Linked DNA regions of Homo sapiens. The protein of the gene in region 1 purifies or fractionates together with the protein of each later gene. This does not show direct contact. Each region holds a gene or a part of one and is shown on either strand. Other genes may lie near its edges.

Region 1 (3,500 bases):
ACTTGGTTGACCCCTCCTACTACAAACGGCAAAAATGTCACCGTATGTGCCCTTGGCTTAGTCCCCGTTTTTGCCAGGGTGGTTCCTTCTTGTTAAATGTCTCCTCCTTAGTGAGTTCTCCCTGCTCAGCTGATTTAAAATAGTACTCTGCTCCCCTCACCCCTAATTCACTATCACAGTCTACTGGTTTTATCTTTTTTCTTTCATAGCATTTATCTGGTTTTGTTTATTGTCCTCCTTTCCCTGCTGCCCCAAGCTCAAATGCAAGTTGTACAAGAGTAGGACTTGTGTGTCTTAATTACACTGTCTCCCAGGATTTAGAACAAAAGCTGGAACACAGCGGGCACATGACAAGATTTTTGTTGAATGAATGAATGATAGTGAGGGAAAGGAAGAAATTCAAGATGACTACTAGATTTTGCGGGGGTGAGGCACAGCTGTGCTTAGCCAGGCGACTCCAAAGGAGAGCCTTTGAGCAGAAGGCCAGCCTGAGCCAAGGCCTGGAGGTCAGGAGTGGTGGATGGGTATGGGAAATGGGTTCTGGGGCAGGGTGGTGTGCTGGGGGCTTGCCTGGGATATGGCTGGAGAGGGAAGCAGGAGGTTTCTGTAGGAATTTTTAAAAGTTACCAGCATTTTTGTCCTAATGTGGAAGAAGCTCGTCACAGAATTATTTCAGGAAACTGCTTTTCTCCAAGCAAAATCTGGTAGTGGGAAGGAGGATGTAGATACTTCCTCATCAATGACTGCTGAAAAGATGCAGCGGCATTGTCAGTCACAGCGAGGCCCGGGTCGGGGCAGAGGCATCATTGCAGTCAGAGCTTGGCCCAAATGGAGGCCGCAGTGGCTTTGTTGCTCCAAATGACATGGTTTAGTTATTTTGATGGCCAAAGAGTATTCTTTGTGCATATACATTACAGTTTCTTGATCCCTTCATCTGTAGATGGACAGGAGATAAAGTTTTTGGAATCTCCATGCCTGAGATTAAAAGGTGTGGGACTTCCTCTACCAGGCTCATTTCCTTGGACCTAATATCCTCTGGGTTTCTTGGGTTTCTCCACATGGCTGTGGATGACAGGATTTCCCAAAGCTTTATGGCTGAAGCATATTCCATAGTGTATCTGTATGGTGGTTTCTTTATCCCTTCAGCTGTGGGTGGACAGGACAGGTCATTTACCATGATGTCCTCTAGGTTCAACAGTGTGGCTGCAAATGATGTAATTTCATTACATTTTTCTGGATGAAGAGTATTCCATTTGTGTATATATACTACAGTTTCTTTATCCCTTCATCTGCGGATGAACAGGTTTCTCCACATGGCTGCAAATGACAGGATTTCATCCACTTCTGTCGTGGAAGGGTATTCCATTCTGGATATATATTTCAGTTTTGTCATCCCTTCATCAAGGGATGAACAGGTTCAACTGTGTGGCTCCAGGTGATATGATTTCAGTATATGTGCACAGCTGAAGGGTATTCCATTGTGAATGAATACTACAGTTTCTGTATCCCTTCATCTGTGGATGAACAGGTCTCTCTCCACGTTGCTGGAAGTGGGGTGATGTCCTAAAGTTTGATGGCTGAAGAGTATTCCATTGTGCAAATATCCTGGAGTTTCTGTATTCCTTCATCTGTGGATGAACACGACTGCTTTACATTTGGCCTGTGCCAATGGCCATGTGGAAGTGGTCACTCTCCAGGTGAACTGAAAGTGCCAGACTGACATTGGTGACAAATGAAACAGGATGCCTTTGATGAAGGCTGTACATTGCCAAGAAGAGATTTGTGTCATCATTCTGCTAGAATGTGGCACCAACCCAGATCTTATGGATGTCTATAGCAACAATGCACTACACTATGCTGTGTATAATGAGAATACACTACTGGCAGAAAAACTGCCCTCACACCATGTGAATACTGAAGTGCTGAACAAGGATACTGAAGTGCTGAACAAGGATGCAAACACACCACTTTTACTTGCTATAGTTTGCAAAACACAGCAAAAGGTGGAATTTTAGTGAAGAAACAAGCAAATGTACATGCTGTTGATAGGTTGAAAAGAACAGCTCTCATGCCTGTTGTACATTATGGCTTGTCAGGTATAGTTAGCATTCTTCTTCAACAAAATATTGTCTTTACTCAAGAGTATGTATGAACAGACTGCAGATTATGCTATTTCTGGTGGTCTGACAAGCACTCACAACAAATTTTGCAACATTAAAAAAAAAAGATACTTGAAAATGGTCTTCAAAATGACAACCCAGAAGAAGCATCCAAGAAGAATGCAAGTTTGAAAACAGGAGGAGCAAGTGCAAAAGATTCTGGGAGTTCTGAAGCATCTGCATTCAGTATTTAAAAAAAAACTGTGTGTTGACTCATGGCCTAAACCAGATGATGAAGACTTGACTTTTACTACCAAGCAGTGTATCCCTGAGAGTGTTTCAAAGTCTTTACTTGGACCTTCATATAAAAAAGGAAAAAATATATAGTAAATGGAAAGGGAGAAGGGCCTCCTGAAAAACATCCTTCCCTAAAGCCTACCATGGAAATGAAAGATTCTGTTGTGAAGAAAGCAATAGAAAGGAAGAACGAACAAACATCCAAAGCAGAACAAGAAGTACAAGTGACATCAGAGGAAGAACAGGAAAAGCTTGAAAGTGAAAATAAACAGCCACAGGTTGAAGAAGCTAGAAAGAAGCACGAAAGTTAAAAAAAAAAAGTATCAAAAAAACGTATATGATAGTACATCTGCTGACGATGATGATAAATTAATTCAACAAAGAAAGAGTGGAAAAACTTACCATCAGCGATTTCCTAGGAAGGAGAACAAAGAGTATGCTAGGCCTGCAAAGAAAATGTCAAATGAAAAGAAAAAGGTCAAAAAGCAAACTCATTTAGAGATGAACCTGATGACTTAACTCGGCCCTCTGAAACAGCTTCAGAGGATCATGAGAAACCTTACCCTCATTGTAAGAAGTTTATGATGCTCATTAAGCAATATGGAATGGATTGTAATGATTCTCGTATCCTAATGGAAGTCCAGAATGCATTTCTTTCATGTGAAAAGTCACTGGACCTTAAAAAAAATTATCTGTGAACAACTTACACTAGACAATAAGAAATATGAAAACTGAGTTTAGTGTACTGAAGGAGCTATCCAAAACACAAGAAACGAAGTCACAGTTCAATATCAAAAAGTAGAATGGAAACAGGAACTCTACAGTTTGCAGCTTAGAAGAAGATGAGAAGAAATGCTAATATGTTATATGAAAAAATTAGGGAAGAGTTAGAAAGGAAAGTGGAGCAACATAGGAAAGAAGTTGAAGTAAAAGAACAGCTTAAACTGACTATCGGATCACTAGAAATAGAATTGAAGGCTTGAAGAAATACTTTAAGAAAAAAAAAGATCTGATGCATGAAAATTGCTTGTTGAAGAGAGATATTGCCTTTATTGTGTATGTAAGTATACACAATAAAAAATAGGAACCTCGAAAGGGAAAAAG
Region 2 (3,500 bases), on another chromosome or scaffold:
AAGATACTGTAACTCAGCCTTTTTTAAACGTAATGAAGTCTGTTAGAGTAATAGCTGAGAAGCATATAAACTAGTGTAGTTTATATAAATAGTACCTACTAAAGGAGCTATTATATAGTATTTAACACTAATAATATTTTGATTATGGCTAAATTATTTAAAATACTCATAGATATCAACAAAAAATACTAACTTTAAAATGTTAACAAAGTTTACTCATTCTGGCAGGAGAAGTTCACTTGGAATTAATTTTTTTAAAAATCCTCCCTGAAATTCTTAATTGTTGACAAATTTGCTAAATTTGATAGTGTTCTAAAACGTTTTTCTAGAGCCAAGCATGGTGGCTCACACCTGTAATCCCAGCACTTCGGGAAGCCAAAGACAGTGGATCACTTGAGTTCAGGAGTTTGAAACTAGCCTGGGCAACATGGCAAAACCCTGTCTCTAAAAAAACAATACCAAAAATTAGCAAGGCATCATGGCATGTGCCTGCAGGCCCACCTACTAGGGAGGCTGAGGTAGGAGGACTGCTTGAGCCCAAGAGGCTGAGGCTGCAGGTGAGCCATGACTGTGCCACTGCACCCCAGCCTGGGCAACACAGTGAGACTCTGTCTAAAAAAAAAAAAAAAAATCTGAGTAGCAACTGAAAAATTTTCATCCAATAATAAAAGATGATATACTGCTTGAAAATATAGATAGGTAGCTATAAAAGATGACGTATCTGCTATATCTTGATATCTTATTACTATATCAGTTGAAGATACGCAAAAAAGTACTTATTTTATACTCATAACTTTTTTTTCTGGAATTTCATTCAAAAGCAGATCCTCAAATAGCATTTCACAACGATCAGCAACTGTGTTCAATATATCCCTCTTTACTGCCTACAGGGAAAAACACACAAAAAACACAGTAAGAAATAAAATACTTTAGATTTACAATATTTAACTAACAAAAAAAATAATTTGCTTTCCAGTACAATCATGCCCACTAAATAACTGATACATCATTCAATGTTTTATTTCCACTTATTTAGCACACTTATTAACAAATTTATAGTTTAATGATAAATTTATCTAAATAGTTAAAAACAGATAAATGAATAAAATTTCACATCTAAAAAAATAATTGCAGTGTTCCAAATTAGATACTAATATGTATAACAGTGGAACACTTACTAAACTTGTATAGCCATCATTTTTAAAAAGGCACAAAATAGATACTCTACATATGAAAATCTTCACACCAATTATATGGTACATTTGGACTGCACAATAGGCCATTATCAGTTAAAATCGAATTAATAATTACAAAATATAAGATTAAAAAATGGTAAAATTTTAGGTTTTTGTTAATAGTTAACATGGTTCCATATGCTCGTTATTCCTTTTTGTACCTGCACAGCATCTTTAACTTTGGGTTTACTGCTGTGGATATAAGCTCTGCATTTCACAGCACCCTTAAGGTTTACAGAACCGCTACATATCTGGACTGTGGCTGTGGATCTGTGGTCTGAATTCAGGAGCTGAAAGACAAAATCTGTTTAAGTTCTAATAACCAACAATGATTAACTACAGGAAATATTTAAACATTATATTAGCGATTTTATGAAGAGAGAACAAAGTTTTGACTGAGCCAAGCATTTGAAATTATTCTCTGCAAATTATTTAAAGGCCTTCATATTTGTTTTTATAAGTTATATATTATTTTCCAGTCATTTTGAAGATATAATGAAATTAAACACAACTACATCTAAATTTTTCTAACATAACCATCTAAAATGGTTCAATATTCACTCGATATGCTCCTAAAAATATATTATTTGCAAATTATTCACATCAGTACTGTGATGATTAAAAGATATACAAAGAAGATATGATGTACTAGATATAAGTTGTGCAATGCAAAATAAGTTCACAATAACAAATACAAAGTGGGATGTGATAACTATGGTAAAACTACAAGCAATGCACAGACACATATATTTACACACTTTCAACCAAAAACTTTCATAGACTAGTCCCATCCTCTTTAGTCTAAGGAATGCCAGTGCTCTTGTTCGGTTTTCAGGTGTTTCACATATATTTTCAACCCCATCATCTTAATAAGTGCCAAAAACAAGGACAGTATCAAAATAGTTAAAGTACTACAGGTTGAGCATCCCTAATCTAAAAATCCTGAATGCTCCAAAATCCAAAACTTATTGAGCACCAATGTGATGTTCAAAGGAAAAGGTAATTGGAGCATATAAGATTTTAGATTTTTGGCTTAGAGATGCTCAACTGGTATGTATTCTGCAAATATTACAAAATCTAAAAAAAATCCCAAACCCAAAACACTTCTGGTCCTAAGCATTTCAAATAAGGCACACTCAACCTGTAATAGAGGCCTATAATAACAGTGGAAACAAAAAATAATGATTTACAAAAAATAACCAAAAAATGGAAATGGTAAGGAAGTAATTTATGTTCTAAGAACACTTGGAGTATAAGTCATTCAACAACCAAATCAATTCTGAAGAACAAAAGTCAAATCATACAACTTGTGAAAAGTGCTTTGTGCCTATGTGCTTATGCAATCAGGAATAAATGCGGAAAAATAATGAAGAGGAGAATACTGACATGCATAGCTATTGAAAGAGCATTATTGATGTCTAGTGTAATTCAAGCAATGTCTAAGGCAATGTAAATCTTCTAGGTGTTGTTAAACAATTTAAACTTTAAGATGGTCAAGGACTTGTTGACAAAAAATTTGCCACAGACCACACAGCTCCAAAGGTCCTGGGTCCATTCAAAAATGGCTATCATCAAACCAAGCAGCAGTGTGACGATGCTGATACAATGTCTGGAATAAGCTTCCATATGACACATGTAGAGTTCATTGATACATCAATAAGGTGGGGTTGGAGGAGGAGTAACAGGCTTCCCCTATCTACTCCATAACTTTTTATTGTAGACAAAACTACTCTAAAAAGAATGTCCTATTTTACATATTTAACATATAATTTATATATTTTTAACATATAACACATTTATATATTAGTATATGTAAATATATGTGTATGTGTGTATATACATATATCTATCTATCTATCTATCTATCTATCTATCTATCTATAATTATGGCATTGTTATCCAAAACAGACTAGACTATTAAAGACTATACACACACATATTAAAGAAAAGAGGTATTTTTTTGGTTGGTTGGTTAGTTTTATTTTGTTTTGTTTGAGGCAGGGTCTTGTTCTGTCATCCAGCCTAGAGTACAGTGATGCTATCAGAGCTCACTGCAGCCTCAAGCTCCTAGGCTCAATCGATCCTCCCACCTTCGCCTCCCAAGTAGCTGGGACTACAGGCACACACCATCACCCCCAGCTAATTTTTGTATTTTTTTGTAGAGACAGGGTTTCACTTGTTGCTCAGACTCATCTTGAACTCCTAGGCTCAAGCGATCACCCTGCCTAGGCCTCCCAAAGTGCTGGGATTACAGGCATGAGCTAC

What was found. Proteins that work in one complex are often made in the same cells at the same time.
Region 2: the proteins of SAYSD1 (region 1) and ODR4 purify together in Homo sapiens (affinity purification with mass spectrometry; one large-scale study listed by BioGRID and IntAct). This does not show direct contact.

Annotation. Positions count from the first base shown.
Region 1 is NC_000006.12:39,108,687-39,112,186, forward strand, and holds part of SAYSD1 (SAYSvFN domain-containing protein 1), read right to left. Parts: exon of another isoform or gene 634-3,500; coding exon of another isoform or gene 628-633; intron 1-627. UniProt on the Homo sapiens protein: Ufmylation 'reader' component of a translocation-associated quality control pathway, a mechanism that takes place when a ribosome has stalled during translation, and which is required to degrade clogged substrates.
Region 2 is NC_000001.11:186,396,338-186,399,837, reverse strand, and holds part of ODR4 (protein odr-4 homolog), read right to left. Parts: intron 1,540-3,500; coding exon of another isoform or gene 1,526-1,539; coding exon 1,397-1,525; intron 885-1,396; coding exon 794-884; intron 1-793. UniProt on the Homo sapiens protein: May play a role in the trafficking of a subset of G-protein coupled receptors.